2 separate regions of the Homo sapiens genome follow, and region 1 is linked to region 2. The links come from fine-mapping of genetic effects on gene expression. A gene starts in region 2. The other region holds a variant in brackets. All regions are shown on one strand. Distances are from middle to middle. Region 1 overlaps RIMBP2 (RIMS binding protein 2). Region 2 holds the start of RIMBP2 (RIMS binding protein 2).

Region 1 (15,865 bases), 230 kb before region 2:
GCCGATTGTGTGTGTACACGGGTCAGCAGTCCTAAGCACCATGGGGTCAGGCGGTCCTAAGTCCACAAATGCACGCACCTACTATGCAGCCACAAAAATTGTAAAAAATTAAAAATAAATAAATAAAAGGGGAGAAACAGAAAAAATAAACTGCTAAAAATATACTTTTACTTTTTATAAACAAAGGGGATGGGAGCTGCAGTCCTGCTGGGGGCTGGCCTGTCGGCTGAGAAGGCCAAGGAAGCCCCCCACCAAGATGGTGCTAAACAAAGGCTCACACCAGAGACAGAGCCCCACGCGGCTGTGGGTGGAAGGCGGGATACACAGTGCCCAGAGCCCCCACCCTCACCTACACACAGTGCCCAGAGCCCCCGTCCCCACCTAGACACAGTGCCCGGAGCCCCCATCCCTCACCTACACACAGTGCCCAGAGCCCCCGTCCCCACCTAGACACAGTGCCCGGAGCCCCCATCCCTCACCTACACACAGTGCCCGGAGCCCCCGTCCCCACCTAGATACGGTGCCCGGAGCCCCGACCCTCACCTACACACGGTGCCCGGAGCCCCCACCCTCACCTACACACAGTGCCCGGAGCCCCCGTCCCCACCTAGACACGGTGCCCGGAGCCCCTGTCCCCGCCTAGATGTGTCCCTGAGCCATGCCACTAACAGGGGCTGCGAGGGCTTCCGCGGCTCCTGGAAAGGCCCCAGAAGTTCCCCCAGGCACTGGCTTGCTGGCATGGACAATGTCCCATGGGAAGGATAGACTGGAGGCGAAACATCTCTCCAGAGTCTGCCGGCGACTGTCACTTAGGTGTCCTTGGCCGGAAGGAGCCCGATGCCCCCCGAAGTGGACCCCTGGCCCCATGTCGCATCCCAGCTGAAAGCCCCTCGGTGGGGAGTAAAGCGGCATGCTGTCACAGGGCCACCTGACTGCCTCTTGCCTCCTGATGCCGCTGCCACCACCATCTGCCTGCCTCTCATGCCCTGCTGTAACACCCTGGCTTTCGCGCTGTTTCTAAAGAGCAGACCAGTGCCCGCCTCTGGACCTTCACACGTGTTGCTCTCCCTGCTAGCCTGACTCTCACGTTCCAGCCTTTGCCCAGATGCCACTTCGCACTGAAGCCTGGTGGCCGCCCGGCCCCTCCTGGATACACCATGTTCTCCACCTGCCTTATTTTCCTCCTGAGCATCCTCATCCCCAGTGCACTGGCCGGCTCCCTTGCCTGCTATCTGCTCCTTCCCCTGGAACATGAGCAGGCACCTTGCCCCACTGTGTCCCTGTCCCCACAATGGGTCACTCGGCACAGATGCCAAATAATCAAACTGCCGCCTTCATGGCCTCTTGGAGCTCAGTCCCACTGCTGTCCCCACCACCCCCTTCTCCAGCCACATGGGCCTCCTCCCAGCCCCTGGAGCTCTCCACGCTGCCCACATCAGGGGCTGGCAGGGAAGGTTGGGGGAAAAGTGCTTCCAGCATTTCAGGCCAGCAAAAGCCATTAAAGAGCCTGAACACCTGGGCTCAAATCCCAGCTCTGATACTGGCCCGCTGTGTGGTCTTAGAGTAGTTACTTAACCTCTCTGTTCTCCATGTTCTTCTTTTGGATTAATTTTTCAACACTATTCTTTTTCAATTGGTTAGTGATTAGTGAAATAACTAATGTTGATTATTAATTAACACCCACTTCATAGAGGTGTTTTGAATTTTCCTTGGCATCTATTAAGTTCTCTGTGTTATGTTTTAGTCCCAAGAGGAGAAAACCCTTTCCCACTGGACGTGTGTAGCCCTGTGTGATGTCACTTAAACACCAGGTACAGGGTGGGAGGGAGGGACTCATGAGGCAACCAGGGCTGCACCAACAGGATGATGGACAGCTACCGCCGCATTGGTAAAATGACGGTGAGAAATCGGAATGTGGCTGCTGTCATTTATTAAGCACCTACTATATGCAGGGCACTATGCTTGCCCAGGCACTGTGTCATTTGAGGCTGAGGGTTGGGTGCTGTGGTCACTGCATCCCAGCAGAGCAACAGACTCAGGGAAGCTGAGCAAGGGCTAAAAGCCACAGCTGGAACATGGCCGATGAGAATGTCAGAACTCACAGCCAGTCTGCTCCCGGCCACTGCCCCACTTCTGGGTTGAGATGACTTACACCAGCCACTGCCATCTTGGAGCACTACGGGGGCCAGGGCAGAGAAGCAGCTTTCGACTTCCTCGCGGCCCACCTGGCCTGGGTGGCCGATTGTGCAGCTGCTTAATTCTGCCATTTTGGCTTAATTCTGGCTAATTTTGTGCTTCTCTTTATTTTGGAAGGGGGCACTGCCAAAGGCAGACTGTATCATCTTTATTTAGTTCTGGGAAGGAAGTTGTTAGCGAGAGGAGGGTGCCACCTTCCCTACCAGGACTCGCTAGGTAGATTCACCAGGCACCGAAACAGCTCCGGGCGTGGTCCTGCGGCCTCAGAGTCACTGAGGATAAAGGGGTGGCGGATGCTATGCTGGGCTCTTGCTTCGGGGTGCCAGTGAGATGAGGGTTTATAGATCAGATGGATGGAAACAAGTACAGGGAAGAAGTCTTTGCATTTCTACGGTTAATGAACCAAGTCCGTACAAAGCAGCTGTCAGAAAGGCGTGAGCGGGAGAAGCACTCGGCCCTCGAAGACAGCCTCAGTTTCATCACAGATGCCATGGCTGGGAGGACAAGGTTTGCTGGGGCTTGTTTTGGCTTCAGCATCTATCTCTCCAAATCTTACCTGTTTCTGCAAAGCCCTCATCCCCCTCCAGCCACTGCCCATGTATCTGCCTCCCATCTCACACGCTCTTCCAGCCCTTCCAGTCAGCCTCCCTCCTGTCACTCGGCTGAGATTCTCCCACTAAGGCAGCCGAGGAGTCCCTGCAGCCCGAACCCATGGCCACTTTCGTGCCCTGACTGGACCAAATCCCTCAGCAGCACCCGACACCAGGGCTGCTCCTCCTGGACATGCCCTGGACTCTGGCCCCCGTGGGGCGCGCTGACCTGGTCTCTCCCCCTGACCTCTGCAATGACCTCCCGCTGATCTCTAAATCCTGGAGGGGCCACGGCTCTATTTATACCATTCCTTAGGTGATCTTAGCCAGCTTTGAGGTTTTAATTGCCACATAATTCCAAATGAACCCTTCATCCCCGTCCCCCGCCCCCCCGCCACTCATACCCAACTGCCTACTCATTATCCCCACATGGATGTACAGGAGGAAGCTCAAATTTAGCCTGTCCGAAATAGAATTCTTGATTTTCTTCCTCAAACAAGTTCCCTCCCCAAGCTGTGCCATCTCGGCCAAGGACACCATCATCCCCTCAGCTCCTCCAGATGCAAAGCTGACAGTCATTCTTGACTTCCTGCCCCCTTTCCCGCCTTGTTCAACATCCAGATCTTTGAGAAAAAAAAAAACCTCCCAATTTAAAAAAATGTGCACCCAAACTCCCCCCACCCATGTCTGCCGTTCTCTCCTGTGTCCAACGCTGCCACCTCATCTCTCCCCTAGACTATGGTAGACTACGGCAGAAGAGCCCTTTCTGCCCCGAGACAGCTCCTCCTCTCCCCTGGACCATAACCAGCTCCTCAGAGCCCTTTCTGCCCCGAGACAGCTCCTCCAGAGCCACTGGCTGCACCAGAGATTGCCCCACAGCCATTCTCCTTCAAGAGCACAAAGGCTGCCAACTGCACCGGGAACAAAATCCAGACTCCTGGCTGCAGCCAACAGGCTCCTCTGTGATCCAGCCTCTTCTCTGCCCTCACCTCTCACCTCTGCCCCTTCCTCACTGTGCTTTTGCCACACTGGCTTCGCTCAGTTCCATGATCACGTCAAGGTCATCCCCAACTCCAGGTCTTAGCGAGTGCCATTCCTGCTGTCCGACATGCTTGTCCCTGCATCACCACGTGGCCAGCCCTTCACGGCGTGATGGGGTTTAGGATGTGTTCCCTCCAAACCTCAGGTTGAAATGTGACCCCTGTGTTGGAGGTGGGGCCTGGTGGGAGGTGTCTGGGTCACGGGGGCATAGCCCTCATGAATAGCTTGGTGCCCTCCCCATAGCGATAAGTGAGTTCTTGCTCTGAGTTCACTCGAGAGCTGGTTGTTTAAGGGAGCCTGGCTCCTCCTCCCTGTCTCTTGCTACCTTTCTCACCATGTGATGCACCTGCTCCCACTTTGCCTTCTGCCATGTTTGGAAGCTTCCTGAGGCCTCACCAGAAGCTGAGCAGATGCTGGTGCCATGCTTGTACAGCCTGCAGAACTGTGAGATAAATTCGCTTCTTTTCTTTACAAAATACCCAGTCTCAGGTATTTCTTTATAACAACACAAAACGGACAAAGACATGGCAAGTGTCCTGACCAGTGACCAGAGATTATTTTATTTACGTGTTTATTCTATGTCATCCTTTCCATCCCACTCCCTACCCTTGTCCATGAGAACCACAGGATCACAGGACTTGTTTCCCTGTCTACTGGTGCACCCCCGGCCCAGAACAGTCTCTGACACATGGTGAGGCAGAATCAATGACAGCAAAGGTGAGGCCTCTCGCCTAAAACATCTGTCCCACGCCCCCAGCCCACACTCCCCTCTCCATCCCTCACAGCCTCCCACATGACTCTGCAGCAATGCTGTAACCTGCTTGGTACCGTTCTAATTCCATGTAATTCTCACTTTCTCAACTGGACTAGAAATGGCTCCATTTCCGTGTGTGCACTCCACAGGCAACAGGAGTCTAATTAACATTTTCTAAGTGGAATTAAAGCAATGATTTTGAGTGGAGGATTCATCCTGTGGCTGTCTAGAAACTAGACTTTAACACTTGAGGAGCCTAGAGAAGATTGGATCCTCACTACCAAAGATTCCACATTTCACCAAACCCACAGTCAAAACTGTGAACCAGAGACATAAGCTGGTTCTCCTGGAGGCCATCACACTGGCGGAGTTAGTCACGCAGCTATAATAAAACATCTCTCGGAGATGGGCTTTGAGACTGATGAGGGTAGAGTGAAGTGGATGGCGAAAAAAAAGTTTAAGCCAAAAATAGGAGAGATATTGGCTGCAAAGGCTGAAATTCGTGGTGTTAGGTGGATGGTAGGGGAAAAGATAGCTCAGTCAGGGGGTGGTGGGGGCCGTAAGTTTAATATTAGTGAGGTCTACGAACCAGCCAAAAAAAAGAGAAATGGACAAGGCTCACAAACACACGGACATGCTAAATATATCCATCCATCCTGGCATGAGGACATACTGATTCATTCTGCACAGCGTTACTTTTCTAAATGTAGCCAGTGTGCATGTCTCTGTTGAAACATCTATAGAAAAATCAGTGTTGCAAGGCTGAGATATTAATCAATGTTTCTTTCTATCACTAACCCTCTATTTCTCCTCCATTCCCCTCCCACTTCCCATCCTGAGGGCTCCATTCCATGCTCACTGCCTCAGGGAGGATGAGAGATGGGTCAGGGAAGAGCAGAAACTGGGGACTCCCCTGGGCTTTGGTCTGCAGAGATAAGGGGAATCAAGAAGACAGCATACAGAGGGGTTACTGTGAGAAACTGAGACTAGATTTCCCTTCTAATCTGCAGAAATATATTGCTTCACCAGAGGCAGACAAATTAGCTGAGAAGAACCGATGCATGTATAGACACTGGTGGATGGGCTCTTGGCTCTGCTTTCTGGAAAGTTCCAGAGAGCTGACTCCTACAGAATTCACGGCTAGCATGGGGAGTTGAGAAAATGGAGCTTAAACAGCCTGGCAGGGATTTCTGAACGACCCTGGGATAGCTAAGAGCCCACGTGAATGCATACAACTAAACAATTAAATTCTTTCATGTCTTATATTTTACAATGTCTTCAAGTAACTTTTACCCTTGTCTCTGAAATAATGGAAACAACTGGTAGACGGTGGCTTGTCTACTTTTACAGCCTACATATAAGCAATACGCATCGGATAGAATGGTGGGAATCTGTGTGTGTACGCCTGGATGAGGGCAGGATGGAATCCCACAACATCTTGGCTTTGGGTCACCCTGCACCCCAGCCTAGATCTCACCTTGGTGTGCCAATCAACTGCCTCAGGTCTCTCAGATCTACTCTCTCTCCTTCTCTTGTTTTGCTCTGTATCAGAAAGAGCTACACTTCCCAGACGCCCTCGCCCTCTGCTTCTGGGTGGTCAGTCAACAGGCAGCATCGGCGGGAGGGAAGCCAGGGATTTCTACCCCTCTCTCTGCCTCTCGAGCTGTCTCCTGTAGAGGCTCCGTCTCCTGTAGAGGCTCCATCTCCTGTCTCTAACCCACGGTCTCTGCTCCTGACTCTGAGATCATCATCACCCCCACTGTCCCTTCAGCCTTAGAGGTGATGCCAGGTTCACAATGCAGCCATCTGGCTTCTTAGTTCTTCCACCCTGTGTGTCACAATCCCCTGTATTAATGTCCCTCCATTTGAAATACCTTGGCTGGCTCCTGCTTTTTGACTGAAGTCTGACCGGTAGACTGAAGGAAAAGGATGAAGCCAACTCCAAATTGATGACACATTTCTATCACTCTTTCAAAATGCGTGTCTTAAAAGTGAATTAAGCACTTTGGGAGGCCAAGGAGGGTGGATCACAAGGTCAGGAGATCGAGACCATCCTGGCCAACATGGTGAAACCCCGTCTCTACTAAAATACAAAAAATTAGCCAGGCATGGTGGCAGGCACCTGTAGTTCCAGCTATTCGGGAGGCTGAGGCAAGAGAATCGCTTGAACCCGGGAGGCGGAGGTTGCAGTGAGCCGAGACTGCACCACTGCACTCCAGCCTGGGTGACAGAGCGAGACTCTGTCTCAAAAAAAAAAAAAAAAAAAGATAAAAAAGAAAAGTGAATTAAGTAATGTTGAGGGGGTTGTTCTGTTTCTTTCACTTGAGTTGTTGCAACTGGACTCAAACCTGCTTCACAGACTTACTGTGACAATTCTAAGTTAAAAAAAAAACTCACGGAAATGTTGATTTTGCTGACCACCTACAAAGCAGAAAATAAATCTGTCCAGGAAAATGTACAATCTGATAATGTTTTTGTTTACTTATCTACAATTTAGCTTGGATTTTTTACTATCCCTTAGTTTGCTTGAAATTTTCCTATTAAAAAATAAATGGTTTTGATGCTTCTTCCCAACTAGGAAAGCTTGTTCTGGTCCCAGCTGTCAGACAATCCCGGGCTGATAGCTACTTTAATGAATCAGCAGCAGAAGTATAAATCGGGGTACAGGGAGATGGGGGTGAAGATAGAGGTGCTTGGTTTACCTCAAGAGTTATAACATCACGGGGCAAAGGCAGGTTCGGTAAGTTCCAGCTGCCATTTCTCTCCAAGGGCCAGGAAACAACATCTTAAGATAAAAGTCACTGGCCATAAACAACCTTATTCAAGGAAAATAATCTCGTCTGCAGGGCACCTGTGGTGTGAAGGCTGAGACCTGTGAGTTCAGCAACAGAATCGGCCAAGTGGGGGCTGCAGTAAACCCCTCGGCTTACCGGCCAGTCCACAGGACTAAAAGAGAGGCCAAATGCCAACTCACCCCGGAACTCAGCCACACCATAAAAGAGGGAGATGTGGTCAGAGTTCAGTGGGAGGGTGGGGAGCGAAGTGGGAAGCGGTCTACACAGCAGCTCCCGAGCCCCCTGTGTGTAGCAACAATCAAAACCCACGTTAGTGTTTATCACAGATCACCACCTACAAATGGTGGGAAAATGGTGTTCTTATTCCGGTATGCACATTGCTGGCACAGTTTTCCCAGAGAACCTGCCTGAGACCCAGCCCAGCTCCAGACATCAGCCTCCACATGCTCACCTAAACACATCTGAGGATTACTAAGTTCTAGAAGTACTGTTATGCTAAGTACTGAACACACATCACCCATTTAATCGGCACAACAACGCTTGAAGCAGGTGATATTTTTATTCCCATTTACAGAGAAGGAAACCAAGGCCCAGAGCGGTTAAGCAACGTGTTCAAGTTTGCCCAGCTAGGCCAGGCTCAAGCCAGGATTTGCACCTAGCGAGCCCAGCTCACTCTCCCTCCACTGTCTCTGCTCTCTGCTGTCTAAGAGGCCTCCTCCAGGACCTCTCTCATATTTGCGGGATGTGCTGATGTTTGCTGGGACTCTCTTCAAGGCAGTACACATGAGAACCTTTTCTGCAGTGCCCTGAAGTCACTCCGCCTCCTTCCTTCCAGAGTTCTCAGGCCACCACGCACACTGTTCGTGCCTCTGTCACAGAGCCATCTGCACTTCTGGGGGGCAATCGCACTTTCCTTCTCACAACTTCCACAAGCAGCTAGGAGTCTCTCGGTTCCTGGGAGTGCAAGGGGCCCAAGGATTCCCAAAGGGAGTCTGAAAACCTCGGGTTTCGCCCAGAGACAGAATCCCACCACACCCTGACACCGGGCTTCCGCCTCCCCGCGCAGAGACCTTCCCAGGGCACGTGCTGTCATTCATGGGAAGGCTTCACATCTGAAAAGTACTCAGGATTATGCGCCACGGCCAAAACTGCCTGTCTGAAACGCTCTGCCTGTGGCAGGATTTATTTTTAAAGCAGCGATATTTATAGCTGACTGTCGACATTCACGCCAGCACTTAAGCTGCCTACAAATGTCAGGGTGCCGCTATCCCAGGGAAAAGCTCGGATGTGACACGGAACGAACGAACCTGAAGCAAACTGAATTATCTCCTCAACGTCAGATCAAACGTGGACTTGTCCTGTGCTTGGATGCTGCCTTGCCTGAGC[G/A]AAGAAATTAAGGAAAAACCAATTTCCCCAAATAGGAGCTAACGGTGACACTTTGAATGTCACATTAGTGGGATCTGCTACGCGTGGTAGAAATAATGAAGCATTTATGTACACACGATTTGCTTTCACCCAGCACCTGGCAGAAGGAATGCAAGCACTCACAGAACCCACGTCTTCAAAAGCAAGAAAGACAAGGTCTTTAAAGCTGTTTGTTTTCATGGCATCACGACTGTCTGTCCTAGTCACAGAAGTCACACTCATTAAGAATGAGAATGTGTGTGAAAAACATTCATGTGAATTCAGTGAGGTCTATTTCAGCCCAAGTATTTTAGTTTCTCAAACTGGGAAAAAAAATGGATCCTTAGGAGTTCCTTTGGGGGAAAAAAAAAGAGAGAGAGAGAGAGAAAGATTTTCCTGAGTGTTGATTGGTCTTTGATCCTAAAGCCTCCTTCCTTCTCCTCTGGCCCTGATGAATCCTAGAGATGCAGGGGTGGCAACATTCATCCATGCTGCTTTGGGAGGGTTATTTTTCTCACACACAGTTTCTGTCCTGCCCCAGTGGCTCCCGGCTGTGAGCCCGGGATTTTGGCCAGCCAAGTAGAGGGGATCTTATCAGCTGGACCTGTGTTCAATGCCATTTCCAACACGTACAGGCTGTGTGCCCTGGGGTGAGTTAGGTACCTCTCTGAACCTCAGGTTCCACGTTTATTGAATGGCAACAAAAAATACCGTCCTTCCTAGGTTGTCGCAAGAATGAGATTAAATGTTAGATTCAAAGGGATCTGCACAGAACCAGGTGCGGCAGCTCACGCCTGTAATCCCAGCACTTTGGGAGGCCGAGGCGGGTGGATTGCTTGAGTCCAGAAGTTTGAGACCAGCCTAGGCAATATGGCAAAACCCCATATCTGCTAAAAATACAAAAAATTAGCCAAATGTGGTGGCAAACACCTGTAGTCCCAGCTATTCAGGGGACTGGGGCTCAGGCAGGAGGATGGCTTGGGCGCAGGAGGCGGAGGCTGCAGTGAGCCTAGATAACGCACTGCACTCCAGCCTGGGTGAGAGAGTGAGATCGTAGCTCAAAAAACCAAAACAAAACAAAAAAACAAAGTGACCTGCACAGGAATTAAGTTTCATGTAAATATCACTAAGTTTTATTTAGGTCTGCCACTCGATTTGGCTTCTGTTAGTTCCCTCCCATTTTCATTATTTGATCTCCCCTTTCCTGCCTTCTTTTTGTTTTTTGTTGTTTCTTTTTGTTCGTTTTGTTTTGTTTTTGAGATGGAATCTCGCTCTGTTGCCCAGGCTGGAGTGCAATGGCGTGATCTCGGCTCACTGCAACCTCCACCTCCTGAGTTCAAGCAATTCTCATGCTTCAGCTTCCTGAGTAGCTGGGATTACAGGCGTGTACCACCACGCCTGGTTAATTTTTGTATTTTTAGTAGAGACGGGGTTTCAGCATGTTGGCCAGGCTGGTCTCAAACTCCTGACCTCAGGTGATCTGCCTGCCTCAACCTCCCAAAGTGCTGGGATTCCAGGCGGGAGCCACCATGCCCAGCCTGGTTTTCAATTTTAATGTCTCCATGGAGTGCTGTTCTGTATGTTTTTATGTCACTCCTAGTGGTTGCCCCAGGGAACTCAATATACATATTTAAATTTAAACAATCTACTCAGAATTAAAACTTGCCATTCCAAGTGGAATTCTTACATGCTCCATCTATATACCTGAAACCCCATCACAGTGTTCTACATTTTCGTTGAAGTGTCATTTATGTACATGAAAGAGTCTACCAGGAGAAAAACAGCCTGGTCTAGCCTGTTACATTTACCCGGATATCCGCCCTTTCTGTTTCTCTCCTCTGTCCAGTGTTTCCTGAGCACCAACTACGTCCAGGTGGCCCGACAGGCACTGGAGACACAGTGGACACAAAGCTGAGAGGCCCTGGCTTGTGTGGGGCTGACATCCCAGTGGGAAAGACAAGCGTTGATCGGGTGAGGATATAAAAATGCAAGCTTGTGATGCATGGGTAAACTGAGGCTCACGGAGATGACTCAGCCCCTTGTGAGTACATCCCACACTCTGGGACAGAGCGCTCATTCTGTATCACTGCGCTGGGGACAGGGACAGAGCGGTTCAGAAGGACAGACCCCGCCCTGGCCCTCCTGGAGCCCACTCCACACCCCAGCAAGCATCAGGCCTAGAAGTTGGCACCTCCCCGCCACCACGGTTCTCCCTGCACTGCTCTGCCCCCGCCTCCACAGTCTCACGGTAAGATGGTGGATGCAAACGTGCTTTGAAAGATGCAAAGCACAGTGGCTCATACCTGTAATCCCAGCACTTTAGGAGGCCAAGGCAGGCAGATCACCCGAGGTCAAGAGTTCGAGACCAGCCTGGCCAACATGCTGAAACCCCGTCTCTACTCAAAATACAAAAATTAGCCAGGCATGGTGGCAGGCACCTGTAATCCCAGCTACTCAGGAAGCTGAAGAGGGAGAATCGCTTGAACCCAGGAGGCAGAGTTTGCAGTGAACTGAGATTGCCCCACTGCACTCCAGCCTGGGCAACAGAGTGAAACCCTGTCTCAAAAAAAAAAAAAGAAAGAAAAGAAAAGAAAGAGCAAAGTAGGAGTCAGGTAACCCACGGAGGCCTCCAGGACCCTGCACTCCAGCCCTGTGTGCTGGTTACTCAGGACACACCCTCTTCCCTGCTGTCCAGAGCACTTGGCCTTATGTGGGAAAAGGATGCATTTGTGACCGCTGGGTCACAAAGTACCACAACTGGCACTTCTGCTTAAGACAATGGAAAGTGTCCTCTCACAGCCCTGGAGCACAGAAGGCTGAAATCCAGGTGTCGGCAGGGCCGGATCCTCTCGTGGAACCTCTGAGGGAGAAGCCGCCCCATGCCCCGCTCCAGCTGCTGGCGTGGCCACGATGCTTGGTGATCTTTGACCAGAAGACACCTCACTCCCATCCCCTTGGGTGTCTCTGTGCCTCTTCTTCTTATAAGGACAACAGTCCTTGGGTTTAGGGCCTGCCCTACTCCAAGATGACCTTATATTAATGACATCTGGACAGACTCATTTTCAAATAAGGTCATATTCACAGATACATAGATTTAGGACTTGGGCGTCATTTGGGGGAACACAGCTGGCCCTCTACATGCCCTGAAATGATGAGGGGGGCTGCTTCACTTGCTCCCCATCTGCCTGGATTCATGCCTCTGGACACCTGCCCCAGACCAAGCCATCAGCCACGCTGGTACATGCCCTAGTGGCTCCCGCCTCAGTGCTGCCCGTTGTCTCCTCTTGCCCCTGTGAGATTTCCCCAGGGATGTTGCTTGGTCAGGCCACTGTCATCACGTGGGCCTCAGCTGAAGTGTCACCCCCTAACAGACATGTGCAGGGTGCCCTGCGCTCCCCTCTCCCTCCAGGTCACCCTGGCTCATCACCGTCTTCCTCCGTCTCTGAAATTCTTATCTATTTGCTGGATGACCTGATTTTTTTTCTGAGCTCCTCCCACCCCAGTAGAAGGTAAGTTTCATGAAAACAAAAATAACCTTGGACTTGCTCCTCGTTTTACTCCAAGCATCTGGCATGGTACCTGGCTATCCTTCTGTCTATTCTAGTAGATTCCTTTGAGGGTGTATATCAATGAAATTGCTCACGGTATTAGCAATTCTTGATCACTAACCTCTCCAGCACCAGCCACTATGTTAGATCACTGGGCACATTCTATGCTTTGAACCCTTACATCTAGAAAGGTACTTTATGGCCACTTTAAAGATGAGAGAACACCCCGGTTCTCAGAAATTAGTTAGCTTGATCACACGTAAACAACTAGTTAATCATCAAATTCAAATTTGAACTCAGACTGGTCTAACTAAAAGCCCAAAGTCTTTGAATTAGGTCATGCTACTGAGATCAACGGGAACGTCCCCCTAGGGTGGGTGATGATTCTGCCGCTGACTCATTGGACCTAAACTGTAAAGCATTGTGGACCACGGCAGAGAGTACGTCCGTGCCTGTAGCCATGTGATACGGTTTGGCTGTGCCCCACCCAAATCTCATCTTGAATAGTAACTCCAGTAATTCCCATGTCTTGTGGGAGGGACCTGGTGGGAGATAATTGGATCATGGGGGCGGTGTCCCCCACACTGTTCTGTGGTAGTTAATAAATCTCACAAGATCTGAAGGTTTTATCAGTGGAAACCCCTTTCTCTTGATTCTCATTCCCTTCTCTTCTCTTGCCTGCTCCCACGTGACACATGACTTTCACCTACCACCATGATTGTGAGGCCTCCCCAGCCACATAGAATGGTGAGTCCATTAAACCTCTTTCCTGTATAAATTACCCAGTCTCGAGTATGTCTTTATTAGCAGCATGAAAAAGGACTAAACCACCATCTCACTGTCCTCACTCCGGTCTCAGCAGCCCTGCTGAGCAGCTCTGGGGTAGAGGAGGCTGCGAGGGGTGAGGCTCCATCCACTTCCTGCAGGAGGGATGCTTCTGTCCACGGGAGACCAGCACACAGTGATACCTCATGAAAGGCCACGTTCCCATCACCCTGAGCCCCCTTCTATGTCGGGCCCCCAGCAGCTATGGCGCTGGGCAGGCCCGCTCCCCAGAAAGTGACCACATGATGGTTTCCTGCCTGTGATGGCCTCCTTCAGGCACACCTTTCTCTCACCTGCAGGCCACCCAGAGGAGCCAAGGAGGACCGCACACTTCTCTGCACACTGGGACTGCTGTCCTCTCCCTGAGGAGTGGGACCCTCAAGTTGTTCTGCCCAGGCCATCAGACCATGACTGCCCCGATGTCACTGAGCAGAGTACAGAGAGACTGGGATGTGTATACACTGGGGGCTTAAAACAACAGCAACCCATCCTCTCATGCCCTGGAGGCCGGAAGTCTTCAGTCGAGGTGTGGACAGGGCCATGTACCCTCCGAAAGCTCCAGGGCAGGCTCTTCCCCATCTTGCCAGGCTCCTGGGCGCTCCATGGCTCTGATCTCTGCCTCCATCCACACGTGGCTTCCTCCCTGAGCGTCTGTGTCTCTATCCAAACTCCCCTCTCCTTTCTTTCCAAAGCCTGTCACTGAACGAGGGCCCTCCCTGATGTGCGACCGCACCTTCACCTAGTTACATCTCCAAACACACTATTTCCAAATTAGGCCCCGCGCCCCAGTTCTGGGTGGACATGACTGTGGGGAGGCTGATTGAATCTACCCCTCTGTCCAGAAGCTTCTCACCTGCCTTCTGCTCCCTGGGCTCCGTAATCACTGATTCTGCTCACAGCCTCTGGTGGGTCCACCAGTCCCTGCCTCTAACTGCTTCTAGATTGAGCTCTCTGAATCTAGAAACCTTGTGAGTGTGAAGTTAAACCGTCCTTCCCTGCCAGGACTCTAAAATAAAAGCAGCTGTCGCTCTACCGCATCCGACGAACAGAACTGTCTCACGGGCCATGGGAGAAGGGGCTGGAGAGATGCGTTCTGGCCGTGGCTGTGAGCGAAGCACCACCGGTTGCAGTCCCTTTACCCAGGAGCTGGGGAGAGGCTGAGGACCCAGAATGTCTTGTGTATCAGGCAGTAGAAACTCACATGAAAAACACATGAGGCTTTTTTTGTTTTGTTTTTTTGCAGTGAGTAAAAAAGCCCAATGCGTTTTTTATTTGAATCTGAGAAGCTGGAGAATAAAAAGCATTTTGTTTATTTTATCACAATGCACTCACTTCTGACAGGCACCCTGCTTCAGAGGAGTGCTGGGTGTTTTGATCAGACTCCTGTGCCAGGACCTAAGAGGAGGACTGACTCTGGGTTAAATGCAACAAGGAGTGCGCGGTGGGGAGATCCTTGTCTGACACCAGCCTGGGCTGAGGAGATGCCGGAAATCACCAACTCTCCTGTGTTTATTCCCCTTGGAGAGTCTCTGTCTATTCCAGAAAGGAACTGCAGATTGATCTGTAGATGTGACTTTATACAGTCACCTGTGAGCCCCAGAGAAGCACCTCTGCAGAGAAGCACCCTGACTCCAGGCCTCCTGCTGCTCGGTCATTCTCCATGAAGGCAGCACTGACTCCAGGCCTCCGGCTGCCCCGTCATTCTCCATGAAGGCAGCACTGACTCCAGGCCTCCGGCTGCCCAGTCATTCTCCATGAAGGCAGCACTGACTCCAGGCCTCTGGCTGCTTAGTCATTCTCCATGAAGGCAGCAAGTGTCTGCAGTGCCGGTCGGTTCAGCGAGGCAATCTGTCAACCCCTCACTCATTCATGCGTGCACTTGCTCCGTTACTAATTCATCAATCAATCAGTATTTATCGAGTGTCTACTATATGCCAGATTTTGTGCTGGGCACTAGAACAAAGGCTGTCTTGAGGATGTTACATTTTGGTAGGGAAGACAAATACACAGGCAGACAGTTAAAGCAGACAAGATGAGTGCGCTGAAGAAATGGAACCCAGTGATGTGCAAGTGACCAGCAAGGGGGCCTCTGGTCCTTTAGACCAGGTGGCCACGAAAGCAACATGAAACTGAGACCCAATAAGCCAGGAATCAGAAATACAAAGTGCTGAGGGAAACAGCATTCAAAAAAAAAAAAAAAAAACACTCAGTGCAGGAAATCCGAGCTAGCCTGTGGAGAGGCCACATGAGGAGAGAAATGTCTGGCCTGCCCCCTCTCTTCCAGCCATCCCAGGAGAGGACAACATGCAGGCAAAGAGCCAGCCAAGGCTGCAGATGATTGCAACTTCAGTTGCCATCTGAGCGTAACTACCCAAGTGGAGGCCCCACGTGAGAACCATGTAGCTGCCCAGTCAACCCACACAGCCATGAGACATCAACACAAATCACTAATCTCAGCCACTCAATTTTGGGGTTGCATTAGTCCATTCTCACACTGCTATAAAGACATACCTAAAACTGAGTAATTTGTGAAGAAAAGAGGTTTAACTGACTCACAGTTCCTCAAGCTGTACAGGAGGCATGGCTGGGGAAACCTCAGGAAACTTACAATTACAGTGGAAGGCAAAGGAAACGCAGGCACATCTTCACATGGCAACAGGAAAGAGCATGAAGCAGGAGGGGCTACACACTTTTAAACCAACAGATCTTGTG
Region 2 (15,865 bases):
TCTCAGCCACTCGCTGGGCACTGGGGACTCAGCCACAGGCTGAAGACGCAGAACCCACACCACAGCTGGGGCTGGGGCAGGTCTCTGGGCGTGACGCCCGACAGCAGAGCTCTGGCACCCGCAGCCTGCGGGGCAGCTCCAGGCTAAGGAGTCAACACGCAGCTCGAGCCCTTGGCCCTTGAACATGGAGCGCTTTACAGACCTGGAGCTGAGTCAAGGCACGTTTCCCAAGATTTTGGGGCTCCCCTCTCAGGGAGAGGGAAGGAAGAGTCGGAAACAAAGCTGCCTGTTGCCCCCGTCCCAATATCTCCGTCCAAGGAGGTACAGGGGCAGCGTGATGGGGTGTGTTCCTGCTCTTGGAAACCACGTCGGTAATAAGCATGAAGAATGCCTTGAGGAAACCCCCCCCCTTCCCACCCAACCCAGCGGCCCGTTCCTGACATTCCCATCGCGGACACACACTGGGTGTGGCACCAGGAGCGTTTAATCAGAGGAACCTGTACCAACGCACCCCCAGGCCCCCTCAGGAGGCCCCTGCTGCCAAAATGGCCAAATGGGCTTTCTTTTTGGTAGCACTGGGCAGGAGGGAGGCAGGGGAAGGAGCGCGGTAAGAGGCATAGGAGGGGCAAGGAGGACCTTCCACCCAAAGGGACACCATGACCAACTCCCCATGGATGGAAATGACAAAAAGTACACCACTGGCCCCCTGGTTTCCGGGTATCCCTGGGAGCTCACGGGTGGACACCGAGGGTCTCCAGGAGAGGGGTTGGCTCTGCAGCCCCTGTGGTCCCAGCTGCTCCAAAAACACCCAAGGAGCAATTTCTGCACATACCTATGAGAATCAAAGCCACCGAGCAGCTCGCAGATCCATTCCTCCCTCTGCCCTCGGGGCCTGAACCTCTCTCCCAGGTGTCTGCACCTCTGGCTCCTTCTCAGGGTCCTGTCTCAGCTTCAACGCCACCTCCTCCCTGAGACCCTCCCAGATCATCCAGGTGCGGCCCCTGACATCAGCCATTGGAACCCTCTGCTGGGCACTCCATCAGGGCAGCTGTCTCTGGTGTAGTGATTATTCATTCACTTGCCCGTTGTCTTACACATGCACACACACACATACACGCAGGCGCACACACACACATACACACACACACGTACACACACACATGTGTGCTCCCCATGAGGGCAGCACCCTCCTCTAGCTTGTTCACTGCTCACCTAAAATGTGAGTCAGTATTTAGCAGGTGCTTAAAGGTTTGCTGAATGAATAGGTCATGCCCTGCCTTCCTGGGTCCCACACAGATAGAGAAGTGGCAGGTGCTGCACCTCCCCCGCCCCAGGCTCAGCACCAACAGGAAGGACCTGTCCACACAGCTAGGCCAAGGAGAGAGCCCCCCTCATCTCCCACACTGGGTCTCTCCAGCAAGTGCTTATCCAGCACCTACTAATGACAGACCACAAAACACCAACAAATGAGAATATCCCAAATGGACGTCTTCAGGCCTCTCCCTGCTCTACCTGCTCCTCCACAAGCCCCACTGCTCCCAATCCTCACAGGCCCCGCACGTCACACGTGGGGTCCCATGGAGCCCTGACAGCCACCTCCCTTTCTCGTGTAGGTGAGCATTAAGAAGAGGCTATCTGACCAGGCACAGTGGCTCATGCCTGTAATCCTAGCATTTTGGGAGGCCAAGGTGGGCAAATCGCCTGAGGTCAGGAGTTCAAGACCAGCCTGGTCAACATGGCGTAATCCCATCTCTATTAAAAATACAAAACTTAGCCGGGCGTGGTAGCCCACGCCTGTAATCCTAGCTACTCAGGAGGCTGAGGCAGGAGAATCGCTTGAGCCCAGGAGGCGGAGGCTGCAGTGAGCTGAGATCATGACACTGCATTCCAGCCTGGGTGACAGAGCAAGACTCTGTCTCAAAAGAAAAAAAAAGAAGCTATCCAGCCTCTCACAAATCCAGAGAAGCCCCAATTTCCTCCATTTTCTGAGGTTCCTTGTCCAGGGAAAAATTAAGAAATGTCTATTACCCTTTTCACGTTTTGCTGGATTCCATTTTCTAATTTACTAATACTTGACTTAGAATGTGGTGTCTGTGACCATGAGAGTTTGGCCAGCACATGTTCTTCCTTCTGATGGCCTCACTGGGGTTTTGTATCAAGATTATTCTGGGCTTTTAAAATGAGTGTGCTTTGTCTTTTTTCTCCATTTTTTGAAGATGCTATTTGGAGTGATTTACTTAGGACGTCATTTGGACTTAAAGTTTATATTGTGTGAAGGTTTCTCATTACAGATGCATTTGCTTCTCACACATATGAAAATAACCACAAAAAAGTTAAAATAGATTTAGATTAAATGTTACTTTTCAGGGACCCACCTCATAAATGAATACTTCTAACCCCACAAACCCTAGTACAGTGTGACTGGCTTGTTCAAAGATAAATGCAGTCACGCCTTGCTTAACAAGGATGCGTTCGGAGAAATGCCTCATTAGGTGATTTCGTCACTGAGCGCACCTCACACACAGGTACACTGCACACACGCCCGGGCCGCACAGCCTCCTCCACGCCCTGGCTCGATGGGCAAGCCCATTGCTTCCGGTTTCACAGCTGTGCAGCCCGTGACTGTACTGAGTACTGTAGGCCACTGCCACACAATGGTGAGTACTTCTGCATCTAATCATAGAAGAGAGGCAGCGGAAGTAAGATCTAAAAGATAAAGCATGGTGCACCTGTATAGGGCGCTTAGCATGAATGGAGCTTGCGGGACTGGAAGTGACTCTGGGTGGGTGAGTGAGTGAGTGAGGAGTGGACGTGAGGGCCCAGGCATTCCTGTACGTGTCTGTAGACCCTACAGAGGCTGCACGTTTAGACTACGCTAAATTTATACAAAAATATTCTTCTTTCTTCCATAACTGCCCTCAGCTTACTTCGTTGCCTTATACATTTCTTAATTTTTTACCTTTTGGACTCTTTTGTAATAATACTTAGCTTAAAACACACATTGTACAGCTGTACAAAAATAATTTCTTTCTTTATATCCTCATCTATTTGCTTTTCCCTATTTGATTTTTTTGTTTGTTTGCTTTTTAAACTTTGCTGTTAAAAGCTAAGACATAAACACACACGTTCACCTAGGCCTCCCCGGGGCCAGCATCATCACATCACCGCCTTCCACCTGCACGTCCTGTCCCGCTGGGAGGTCTCCAGGGGAATAACACAAGGTGTGCCGTCGCCTCCCACGATGGCCATGCCTGCTGTCGGATCCCTCCTGAAGGACCTGCCGGAGGCTGTTCCACAGCTCACTTTTGTTTAATAAGTAGAAACAATACACTCTAAAATCATGATAAAAGTTACAGTAAATCCATAAGCCAGTAACATAGTCATTTATTATCATCGAGCATCATGTCCATGCATGACTGTATGTGCTGGACGTTCACACTCCAGGCAGCACAGTGGGTTCACCCACACCATCGTCACTAAACACGTGAGACTAAAGCTTCAAGCTGAGCAGCTACGACAGCCACACTGGGATGGGGATCTTTCAGGTCTGTTCTAATCGCACAGCCACCGCAGTACGCATGGTCTTCACTGATGGAAATGTCCTTCTTATGCAGGGCGTCATCTGGGAGATTTTCTTCAAGGAAAGATGGATCCACACAGGAGCGTGGCCCAGTGGTGGACACAAGCAGGGGTGAGTCAGAGAGAGAGACTGAGAGAGGGAGAGGAGGAATGAGGGAGGGAGGGAGACTGAGAGAAAAGGAAAGAAAAAACAAAGAGGGAGAGAAAAGGAGAGAAAGAGAGGGAAGAAGGGGACAGAGACTGAAAGAAACGGAATAAAAGAGTGAGAGAAGAAGGAAGGAAGGAAAGAAGGAAGGAAGGAAGGAAGATAGGAAGGAAGGAAGGAAGGAAGGAAGGAAGGAAGGAAGGAAGGAAGGAAGGAAGGAAGGAAGGACTGAGGAGTATGGTTCAGTGAAACCTTTGCACACAAGGGTGGTGGCACCAGCATCACCAACAAGAGATGCAGGTGTCCTCAGCTGGTTGCCCTTTGCACACAAGGGTGGTGGCACCAGCATCACCAACAAGAGATGCAGGTGTCCTCAGCTGGTTGCAAGCCTCCTCCCACACCATAGGGGATCAGACAGCTTTTCAAATGGGTGAAAGTCAAAAGAGAAACTGAGGACATAAGCCATGCACTACCACTATCTACACGGGATGAGGTAAGTGGAGAACAGAGTTTTCTGGAATCAGCAGCTCTGCTTGATCAACAAGAGACCAGCACAGCCGATCCGGTTCTCCCCCGGGTTCCCAGCACCACGCGGATTCCAAACCTTGGGGCAGAAGTGGGAAACACTGAGACGTTCAGCCGGCAAGTCTCCGCCCACCTGGAACAGATGCTCATTGCCGTGCCCTAGGGAGACTCCCGGACACAAAGGAAGCTCCCGGGTCAGGCCCTCTGGTCCCTGAGGTTTGGCACTTGCGGGTCTAGACCAACCTATGAGGCGTGCACTCAGCTTCATGTATGACCTCAGCCAAAGGCCAACAGAGAGCTGGCAACATGCCCCAGAGATGCGTAAAGCGCCTCCTGGTCACGCTGTATTCAAGGATCCTCAAAGTGGGGTCCCTGGATGCCTCCACCTCCCCTGGGACTGCGTGGGAATGCGGATTCCCGGCTCCTCCCCAGACCTGCTGGATCAGAGGTTCTGAGATTTGTAGCCCCTTAACCCACCCGCCAGGATGCCAGCGCTCACCAACGTGTGAGAATCGCTGCTCCAATTAAAACTTCAACCAGACTCCAAAAATACAAACGTGGCAGGGGGTGGATTTGAAATGGAAAGCGAAGCAAGCTCAGGAAAGAGCCAGCTCCTGCCTCTCCTCCCGCCCCCTGAGCACATGCTGGTCTCTTCCAGGCGCCAACAGTGCATGGGGCCAAAGAGATGAAACTGAAAGCTACAGTGTAGGGCCCACCGCTTGTCTTTTCATCTTCATGGCCAGGAGCTCTCAGCCCGGCTGCACGCTGGCCTCACCTGGGAGGCTTCTCCACCACCCACGCCCACCCCCGGACTCTGCAGGCTTGGGGTTCTCTGCCGGGCTTGCAGCATGGGGGAGGCCGGCTGCTATGCCCCGGGGAGGGCTGCGTGGCGCCTGCCTCCTGCGTGGGGGGCGGCCCCCATAGCGCCAGCATCTTCCTGTCTCCCGGGCACGTGGGCAGTGCCACCCTCTCCCTGACCCAGTTTGCCATCCTCTAGGAAGGGGCACGGGGGAATAGCCGCTGCCAGCGCCTTCCCTGAAATAACCTGGAAGGGCTCCACTCTGGGCCCCAGGCGGCTGCCATATGGCCACGGCACAGCCCTCGACCCCAGGCACGCCCCACCACCCCCCACTGCAGAAGGGGTGCCCGCCGGCCTTCCCCTCACACCGTGCCCCCAGGGAACCTCCGGAGCCGGTCAGACCCTGCCCATCCCACTGGGAGCTTGGGATCATGTCTCACAGGACAAGCCAAGACCCCACAGCCCAGCGGGGGATGAGTCTGAAGCTGATTCCCGGACAGCCCAGCAAGGCTGGGAGGGAGCCAGGGAGGGGCCATGTGCGTGGGGGAGGTGGTGATTTTTTAGAGCCTTCCCCCACTGTTCCCCTTAGAAACCGGGTGAGTGAGCCTGCACGCCAGCTCCCCTCCCCTGCCCACTCCTGCTCAGAGCCCAGCAGCCTGGCCTGCCGCAGGGCCCAGAGCCCGGACACCTCCTCTTCCCACCGATCTTCCATTTTCAGAGGGAGCCGCTCTCCCTCCTCTCAGGCCTGCTCCATCTGTGACATTTCCCTTCCCTGGACGAAGTGGGGTTTTCACCCTTGTGAGCAGAGTCTCCTTCAGGGCTCCTCCGTGAGAGAAATATGGGGCTGGACAGGGTCCCCTTCCCTCCCTCCTCACTCACCCTAAGAACCTCCAGGGACCCAGAGGCCACGCAGGCACGGAGCCAGCACCCCCGCCTCCCCCGGGGCCAGTGACCAGGCCGGGAGGTGAAGCAGTCCTCCCTCCCTCCGGCCAGCCGCCACCCCGACCTCAGCCAGCGTGCGCTCCCCGGGGACAGGAGGGAGGCTGCTTCCACCGAGGCCTCTGCTGACAGATGTCCGGGCCCCCACCTGGACCTACCCAGACCTAAGCTCCTGGGCGGGTGGTCCCGTACGCGCTGCCTTTCCCGGTGAAATACGGTTTCCACTGGGAGAGTCTGCCCCCGGCCAGCAGCCCGCGCACACTGCTCACACAGGCACACGCATGCACGCACACACTCTGCCGGGGAACATCTGTTTTGACAAACACATTATTCAAGTCAGTCCATGGGACGTGAATTGACAGATTCCTGGGCGCAGCCTGCGGGCTTTGTGCATTTGCACCTGAGCCGAGCTGGGGACTCTGATGTGTTTGTCCCACGTCCCCTTCCCCCCCTCCACCCCGCCCCCAAGAAGACAAGTCCAGGCCCTGAGCCGCTGCTGTCTGAGAAGCCTGGGGCGCACTCCCCAGGCGAGCGGGGCCGTGTCCATCGGGTGCCAAACTTTGCCTGGAGGGGCCTTTCTTAAAAGCCTGGGGTGGGGGCCATGACAGAGCCACAGCACCCCTGCAGCTGACACCCGGCACCCAGGAAGAAGCCCGTCAGCCCTTCCCTTCCGAGACGATCCTGAATTCCAAGCAGCACCGACATGCCAGCAGGGCGAGCCGCTGCTCCCCGCACCCAGCGCCCCCGGACCCCACGCTGAAGGGCATTCTCCATCCGCTGCAAGATAAACTTTGTCTGGGCAAAGAGTTTCCGGCTAACCCCCTGTGATCAACGCCGCTGCAGCTCGGGTGCAGAAAGGCGAGGGGAGACGGGAAGCTATTTTTAGGAGAAAAAAATAAATCTCAGCCTACCTTTAGAAGCGAGCTGTGCCAAGGCTCCGGAGGTTCACCTCGGAGACAACTGCAGTGTACTGTGTCAGATTACAAACTGGGGGCGAGACGGAGGGAGGGAGGAGGGGGAGAGGGAGAGAAGGAGGGAGGGAGGAGGGGGAGAGGGAGAGAGGGAGGGAGGGAGCAGCAGAGGGAGAGACAGGGAGCGAGAGGCAGGCAGAGGCGGCGCCCAGTCAACATTGCAGGGCATTGGTGTGTCTGCACTGCTTGCATTCAGCTAGACATGATTCATTAGTTTTCTGCAGGCAGGCAAGCAGGTCGAGAGGGAGAGAGGGAGGGAGAGAGAGGGAGAGAGAGAGGATCATCCGCCATGCAGCAGTAACCAGAGCCTCTGAAACGTCAGTGTTTGAACGCACACACACACACACACAAATACACATGCACACACACGTGCGCATACACACACCAAGATGGCTATACCCCTCACTGCCAGTTTCTTTCACAGAGCTGTGGTGAAAAGCTCGGACAGAGATGGAGGCAAACAGCTCTCAGCCATGCGGGGCTTGGGGTTGGTGCTTTTCTCTCCATCCCTGGGAAAACAGCACAGGATCTTCCCTGCAGGAGGCCGGGGGTCTCCTGCAACCGACAGGCAACCGATCAGCACATCAAAGTAAAAGCTGCCCTGGGCTCTACTCCAGGAAGCTCAGAAACTCAAGCGCCCTCAGAATTAAGTGATGAAGAGGAGCGACCCAAGCTGCCTGGGTCTTTGCTCTCCTGTCCGGCTCCCCTCCCCACCCCAAGCCTCCAGTGGCCCCGCAGATTCCCCCTTCCCACAGAACTTCAGGTGGTGGCACAGATATACCCGCTACCTAGCAACCGGGTGGTGCAGGAGGGAAAAAACCCTGGGAAACACGCACGGACTTCACACACTTGCTTCCTTCCCTGGGGTAAAAATCCCATGGCTTGTTACTGAAAGGTGCTGAATAAGATAGCTCATGCGGAGGAAAGCCCCTTTGGTATTTTGGGCTCCACATACCCTAATTGAGGCTCTGAGGGCTCCTACTAATGATGGCCCTGTGCAGGGACAAGACTCGAGTGTAGGACACGAGAATTCCAAGGAAGGGCTCACCACGGGTCCTTTGTACAAAAAGGAAGGACTTGTCCCGAGGTGCTTTCTGTTGCTTCTCCAATTAAGGCTCACTTTACAAGTTTTTTAAAAAATGGGCTCCTTAGTAAAACCAACACATCCTACCATCACCGTGGTTTTGCTTGTGATCTTAAAGGAATCGCAAAGGTCTCAAACCTAGACAGCCAGAGGAAACCTCTTCCCAAGACAACTTTTTCAACACTGTGGCAGACGGGTCCAGCGAGTTTTCCCAGTCAGGACTCATTTTGGCCTCCCGGATAGGCTTCTGAATTATATGCCTCTGAATTTGGCTGCAAGACTGGAGGCTTCTTTCAAGCCCCGTGTAGAGTGGCCCCAGCCTCTGTGCATGGAACAAAGAGATACGTGCTGTATCCAGGAGTAGGTGGCAAACCACAGATGATTCCTTTTCACCCTGCAGCAGAGTTATCAGGTCACAGAAACTACAAGACTGCAGAAAATCGTGGAAGGGACTGGTTACCAGATACTCGTACACACATGTTCACAGCTGCGCTGCTCTCAACAGCCAAAGGGTAGAAATGACACAAGTGCCCATCAATGGATGAATGGGGAAACAAAATGTGGCATATCCATACAATGCAATATTATTCAGCCAGGAAAAAGGAATGGAGTATGTGATTCCTGCTACCACATGGATGGACCTTGAGAGCACCATGCTGGGGAAAGAAGCCAGACACAAAGCCCATCTATCGTATGAGCCCATTTTTATGAAATATCCAAAATAGGCGAATTCATAGAGACAGAAAGGAGACTGGTGGTTGCTGAGGGCTAGGAGGAGAGGAGATGAGGAGTGACTCCTTACTGGAGTGGGGTTTCCTTTTGGGGTGGTGAGAACACATTGGAACAAGAGAGAGGTGGCAGTTGCACAAGACTGTGAATGTATTAAATGCCGCTGAATTGTTTACTTTAAAATGGTTAATTTTATGTGATGTGAACTTTACCTCCATAAAAACATATGAAAAGACCGTAGAAAGTGCCTGTGAATTGGGCCCCACTGACCCAGTCTGCCCCTTCCTGACTCCATCTGTGTGGCCTGGAGCAGGTCAGTCTTTTCCCACATCTGTAAAACGATCGTGTCTGCTTATCACATAATGTCTACTTCACGGGGCTCTTCTAGGGGACAAATGAAATATTTGACAGAAGGAAATAAAGCTATTCCCCCTTAGAAAGGATTCAATCTTTTAAAAGGTCATTCAGTGGCATGAAAATGACTCTCCACCTTTGTTTTCTCAGCAGAGAGGAAATTAATTGTTAAGGAATGCCATGGAACATTTAGGCCAAAAAGCCAAGGTTCGAAAACAAATAAGCTGCAAAAAATGTTTCCATTCAAAGATGCTGGGTTCTCCCCATACAGGGCCATTGCTGTCTGCACCAGCCCCACTGAGTCTCTGTCATGGCTGCACTGTCGTCTGCAGTATCCCATGTGTGTGGGGCTGCATGTCATGGGTCTCGGCGTGAGGAGCCCACTTTTTCAGCTGGACAACTTGAGACCAAAGAGTTGACTGTAGCTGCCAAGAGACACATGGTCAAATCATAGAAAGAATGCAGGGCCAGGCACAGTGGCTCATGCCTGTAATCCTAGCACTTTGGGAGGCCAGAGTGGGAGGATCACTTGAGCCTCGTAGTTCAAGACCAGCCTGGACAACGTAGTGAGACCCCATCTCTACAAAAAATACAAAACTTAGCTGGGCATGGTAGTGCACGGCTGTGGTCCCAGCTACTCAGGAGGCTGAGGTGGGAGGATGGCTTGAGCCCAGGGGGGTCAAGGCTGCAATGAGCTATGATTGCTCCACTGCACCCCAGCCTGGGGGACAGAGTGAGACTCTGCCTCAAAAAAAAAAAAAAAGAGAAAAGAAAAAAAGGAAAGAAAAGAAAAATAATACAGGATTCCATTTCTTGGTGTCATGTTCTAACTTCACAAAAATTAGGTAAATTTTGTGCATAAAATACTGAAAAAAATGTAACAAACCAGAGACTTTCATAGGTAACTAACAATCCAGATGAAGCCATTCTGGGCCTGTGAAGAATGAGGATGTATTCAACCCAGCAGGAAGGAGCTAGCCAGTTCTGAAAAATGAGCTGCTGTGGTGGGGACCAGTTTCGGTGATGGAATCAAAAGTGCTGACCCCCTCCAGCGCTTGTCATAGGCAACCTGCTAGCTCTGGACTGCACACAGGCCACACAAAGGCATTGCTACTCATCGGGTCTATTAGGCCGTTAAAGACTCCTGTGAATAAGGCACCATTTGTTTTATCTGGTCCTGGATGGAACGAGTGTTTGCCAGATGTCAGGAAGTGTGAGATGCAAAGCTGCATAATTGCCATTCACAGTTTTCCAGCCCTCCGTATGGAGACAGCACAACTAGACAGTTTCCACTTGGAACTGCTGTCTGAGAAAATGCCAGTCATTTTGTTTGCAACGTAGTTCTGAAGCTTCAGCATTAAAGTGGAATCTCCTGTCGCTGGACAGCTAATAATAGGTCTGTGCTGACACTGACCATCAGCACCTCTGCGGGCCCGAGCTTCCACAAAGCACAGCAAGTTTTCTATGAGGCCAATTCCAAGGCCGGTGGGTAAGTGCAGCCCCCTAAATCCTTTCAAGTAGCCTTTGAAGCTGGGTGTTCACCATAAGTGCAGCACTCAGCTAGGAACATCTCTCGGAAAAACCTGCCCTGTTTACAAGTAGTAGGGTAGTCAGAAAGGTCTAAAAACTAGGCAGTATTGGAGATGACATGATGATCTACCTGGAAACCCAGATGAACCAATCACAGAAAAACTGTTACAAATAAGAATTGAATAGGAGAGGATAGAATAGGTCTGGCGTGGTGGCTTATACCTGTAATCCCAACACTTTGGGAGGCTGAGACGGGAGGACCACTTGAGCTCTGGAATTTGAGACCAGCCTGGGCAACATGGTAAAAGCCTGTCTCTATGAAAAATACAAAAAATTAGCCAGGTGTGATGCCTCATGTCTGTAGTCCCAGCTACTCGGGGGCTGAGGTGGGAGGATCACCTGAGCCCAGGAGGTGAAGGTCGCAGTGAGCCATGATCACACCACTGCACTCCAGCCTGGGTGACAGAGCAAGACCCTGTCTCAAAAAAAAAAAAAAAAAAGGAGAGCTCTAGATATATTCCATAATTGAATAGAATAGTGTATTATTTTAGGTTCCCAGCAAATATATATTTGTATATTATTGCATATTATTTTGGAGGAACAAAAATAATATACAAAAGTCAATAGGTTTCCTATATAAAAGCAATAATCAGTTAGGAAGTATAATGGAAGGGGAAAAAAATTCCATTTATAATAGCATACAAAAAGAAAGGCATGCCTAGAAATGTGTAAGATATATATGAAGAAAACTGAGGAAAAAATAAAAGAAAAATGGAGCAAAAAGAAAAGCCAACCCCACACTTGGAGAGGGTCCTTAAATTTTATAAAATTCTCCTGAAATCAACCTTAACATTTAATATGATTACAATCAACATAAAGCCGAGATTTTTTTCCAGACCTCTGGAAGCTGATTCTAAACTTAGTATGGAAATATAAGCACAAAAGTATAACCCAGACATTTTATTGAAGGCAAGAAAAAGTAATGAAAGAAAACTAGTTTTACCAGACATTAAAATATATTATAAATATATAAATAAAATTGTTTTGTCATGGTACATGAACAGACAGACCCATAGAACAAACTGGGTGGTCCATAAACAAATCCAATTACATATGAGAATTTAATATATGATAAAATAGTATTTCTAATCAATAAGAAAATATAGAATACTCAATAAATAATTGTCAGAATACAGGATAATTAAGGGAAAAAGTTCTTACACATAAGTTAATTCCAGATAAATCAAGTATTCAAACATATAAAAGAAAAATTAGACATTCTAGAAAACTTATGAATTTTTTTCATTATTGTCAAATGAAGAAGGACTTTCTAAGAAAACTCAGGAACAATAAAAGGAAATGCTGATTAAATCTGATTACGTGGAAATGTAAACTTCTGCACAGTGGGAAAATGCCACAAATAAAACCAAAAGATTTGCTACAACTGAGATAACATATTTGCAACACATATTTCAGATTCAGTTGTGGGTCCAATTTTGTGGGGCCTGGAGTTTATATAATGTGGAGAGCCCTAGTTAAGAAAAATAAAACACAAAGAACACCAATACAAAATACACAAATGATCATTTATCGAGAATAAGAAAATAAATCACAACAAATTCCAGATGTTAAAATGTTGACAAATCCCACAAATATCACAAAATCCAGAAAAATAGCATATATTTATTGTAATTAACTGCCTAAGACTCTACTATAATATCAATTTTATTGATATATGATAAATGTACATAATTTAGGGGTACATGTGCTAATTTGATGCATTCATGTAAGTATAAAAATAAAATCAGGGTAATTGGGCTACCTATCACCTTATAATATTTGTATAATATTTGTTTTTAACACTATTTGTGTAATCTTTGATTACTTCTCCAGATGACAATGATTTTATAATTTTGTTTTCTTTTGAGAGAACAGAAAGAAAACTCTTTCCTCTAGCATGATGATCAAAATTGGCTTTTTAAAGTTATTATTGAAGGCTTAAATGTCTTTTTTAGGCAGCTAGAGAGAAAGGGCAGGTCACCCACAAAGGGAACCCCATCAGGCTAACAGTGGACCTCTCAGCTGAAGCCCTACAAGCCACAAGAGATTGGGGGCCTATATTTAACATTCTTAAAGAAAAAAAAATCTTCAACCAAGATTTTCATATCCAACCAAACTAAGCTTCCTAAGCAAAGGAGAAATAAGATCCTCTTCAGATAAGCAGATGTTGAGGGAATTTACCACCAGACCTGCCTTATGAGAGACCTTGAAAAGGGCACTAAATATAGAAAGGAAAGACCACTACCAGCTGATACAAAAACACACTTAAACACACAGACCAGTGTTGCTATAAAGCAACCACACACAAGCCAGCATAATAAGTAGCTAACAACACAATGACAGGATTGAATCCACACATATCAATACTAACCTTGAACGTAAATGGGCCACATGCCCCATCTAAAAGGCACAGAATGGCAAGTTGTATAAAAAAGCAAGACTCGATGGTATGCTGTCTTCAAGAGACCCATCTCACACATAATGACACCCATAGGCTCAAAATAAAGGGATGGAGGAAAATCTACCAAGCAAATTAAAAACAGAAAAAAAAGCAATGGTTGCAATCCTAATTTCAGAAAAACCTACTTCAAACCAACAAAGATCAAAAAAGGCAACAGTACATAATGGTAAAGTGTTTAATTCAACAAGAAGACCTAACTATCCTAAGAACACATGCACCCAACACAGGAGCACCCAGATCCATAAAGCAAGTTCTTAGAGACCTACAAAGAGACATAGACTGCCATACAATAATAGTAGAAGACTTCAACACTCTACTGACAGTATTAGACAGACCATCAAGGCAGAAAATTAACAAAGATATTCCGGACCTGAACTCAACATTGGACCAAATGGATCTGATAGACCTCTACAGAACTCTCCACCCCAAAACAACAGAATATACATTATTCTTATTGCCACATGGCATATATCAATGACATAACTAGACATAAAACAATCTTCAACAAATTCAAAAGAACTGAAGTCACACCAAACACACTCTGAAGCCACATCACAATAAAAATAGAAGTCAAGACTAAAAAAATTGCTCAAAACCATGCAATTACATGGAAATTTTAAAAACGTGCTCCTGAATGACTTTTGGGTAAATAATAAAATTAGGGCAGAAATCAAGAAGTTATTTTTGAAACTAATGCAAACAAACATAAACATACCAGAATGTTGGGGACACAGCTAATGCAGTGTTAAGAGGGAAATTCATAGCACTAAAAGTATTCATAACATCAAAAAGTTAGAAAAATCTCAAATTAACAACCTAACATCACAACTGAAAGAGTTAGAGAAACAAGAACAAATCAACCCCAAAGCTAGCAGAAGATAAGAAATAACAAAAATCAGAGCTGAACTGAAGGAAATCAAGACACACACACACACACATACACAAATCAAAACATCAGCTAATCCAGGAGTTGGTTTTTTGAAAAAATAAGTAAGGTAGATAGGCCAATAGCTAGACTAATAAAAAGGAAGAGAGAAGGTCCAATAAATACAATTATAAATGACAAAGGGTATATTACCACTGATACCACAGAAATAAAAATAACCATCAGAAACTACTATGAACAACTCTATGTGCACAAACTAGAAAACTGAGAAGAGACAGATAAATTCCTGGACACATACACCCTCCCAAGACTCAACCAGGAAGAAATGGATTCCCTGAACAGACCAATAATGAGCTCTGATTTATTAAATCAGTAATAAATAGCCTACCAACCAAAAAAAGCCCAGGACCTGATGGATTTACAGCCAAATTCTACTAGGTGTACAAAGAAGAGCTGCTACTATTCCTACAGAAACTATTCCAAAAAATTGAGCAGGAGGGACTCTTCCCCAACTCATTCTATGAGGACAGCATCATCACGATACCAAAACCTGACAGAAACAGAAACAAAAAAAGAAAACTTCAGGCCAATACCCTTGATGAACATTAATGCAAAAATCCTCAACAAAATACTTGCAAACCAAATCCAGCAGCACATCAAAAAGCTAATCCACCATGATCAAGTAGGCTTCATCACTGGGATGCAAGGTTGTTTCAACACACACAAATCACTAAATATGATTCATCACATAAACAGAACTAAAGACAAAAACCATGTGATTATCTCAATAGACACAGAAAAGGCTTTCAATAAAATTCAATATTCATTCATGTTAAAAACTCTCAATAAACTAGGTATTGAAGAAACATACCTCAAAATAATAAGAGCCATCTATGACAAGCTCACAGCCAACATCAAACTGAATGGGCAAAATCTGGAAGCATTCCCCTTGAAAACCAGCACAAGACAAACCAGCACAAGGATACCCTCTCTCACTACTCCTATCCAACATAGTACTGGAATTCCTAGCCAAAGCAATCAGGCAAGAGAAAGAAATAAAGGGCATCCAAATAGGAAGAGAGGAAGTCAAACTATCTCTGATGGCAGATGACATAACCTTTTTTTTTTTTTGAGACAGTCTCGCTCTGTCACCCAGGCTGGAGTGCAGTGGCACGATCTCGGCTCACTGAAACCTCTACCTCCCGAGTTCAAGTGATTCTCCTGCCTCAGCCTCCCAAGTATCTGGGACTACAGGCATGTGCCACCACACCTGGCTAATTTTTTGTATTTTTAGAAGAGATGGGGTTTCACCATGTAAGCCAGGCTGGTCTTGATCCCCTGACCTCATGATCTGCCTGCCTTGGCCTCCCAAAGTACTGGGATTACAGGCATGAGCCACCACACCTGGCCTAGATAACATAATTCTATATCTAGAACACCCCATAGTCTCAGCCCAAAAGCTCCTTCAGCTAATAAAAATCTTCGGCAAAGTTTCAGGATACAAAAGCAATGTACAAAAATCACTAGCATTCCTGTACACCAACAACAGTCAAACCAAGAACCAAATCAGAAAGGCAATCCCATTCACAATTGCCACAAAAAAGAACAAAATACCTAGGAATACAACTAACCAGGAAGGTCAAAGTGCTCTACAATGAAAATTACAAAACACTACTCAAGTAAATCAGAGAAGATACAAACAAATGGAAAAACATCCCATGCTTATGGATAGGAAGAATCAATATCATTAAAATGACCATACTGCCCAAAGCAATTTACAGAGTCAATGCAATTCCTATCAAA

Evidence for each region.
Region 1: its variant is fine-mapped to the expression of RIMBP2 in B cells (Fairfax 2012, PIP 0.92).

Annotation. Positions count from the first base shown.
Region 1 is chr12:130,483,296-130,499,160 of GRCh38, forward strand. All of the region lies in intron 4 of RIMBP2 (RIMS binding protein 2), which reads right to left. Among named protein-coding and RNA genes, the nearest start is that of PIWIL1, 150 kb to the left of the region's middle. The variant G/A (reference allele first, on the strand shown) is at 8,763.
Region 2 is chr12:130,709,324-130,725,188 of GRCh38, forward strand. RIMBP2 (RIMS binding protein 2) reads right to left here and starts at 6,976. Exons shown (of 23, transcript NM_001393629.1): 1 at 6,899-6,976.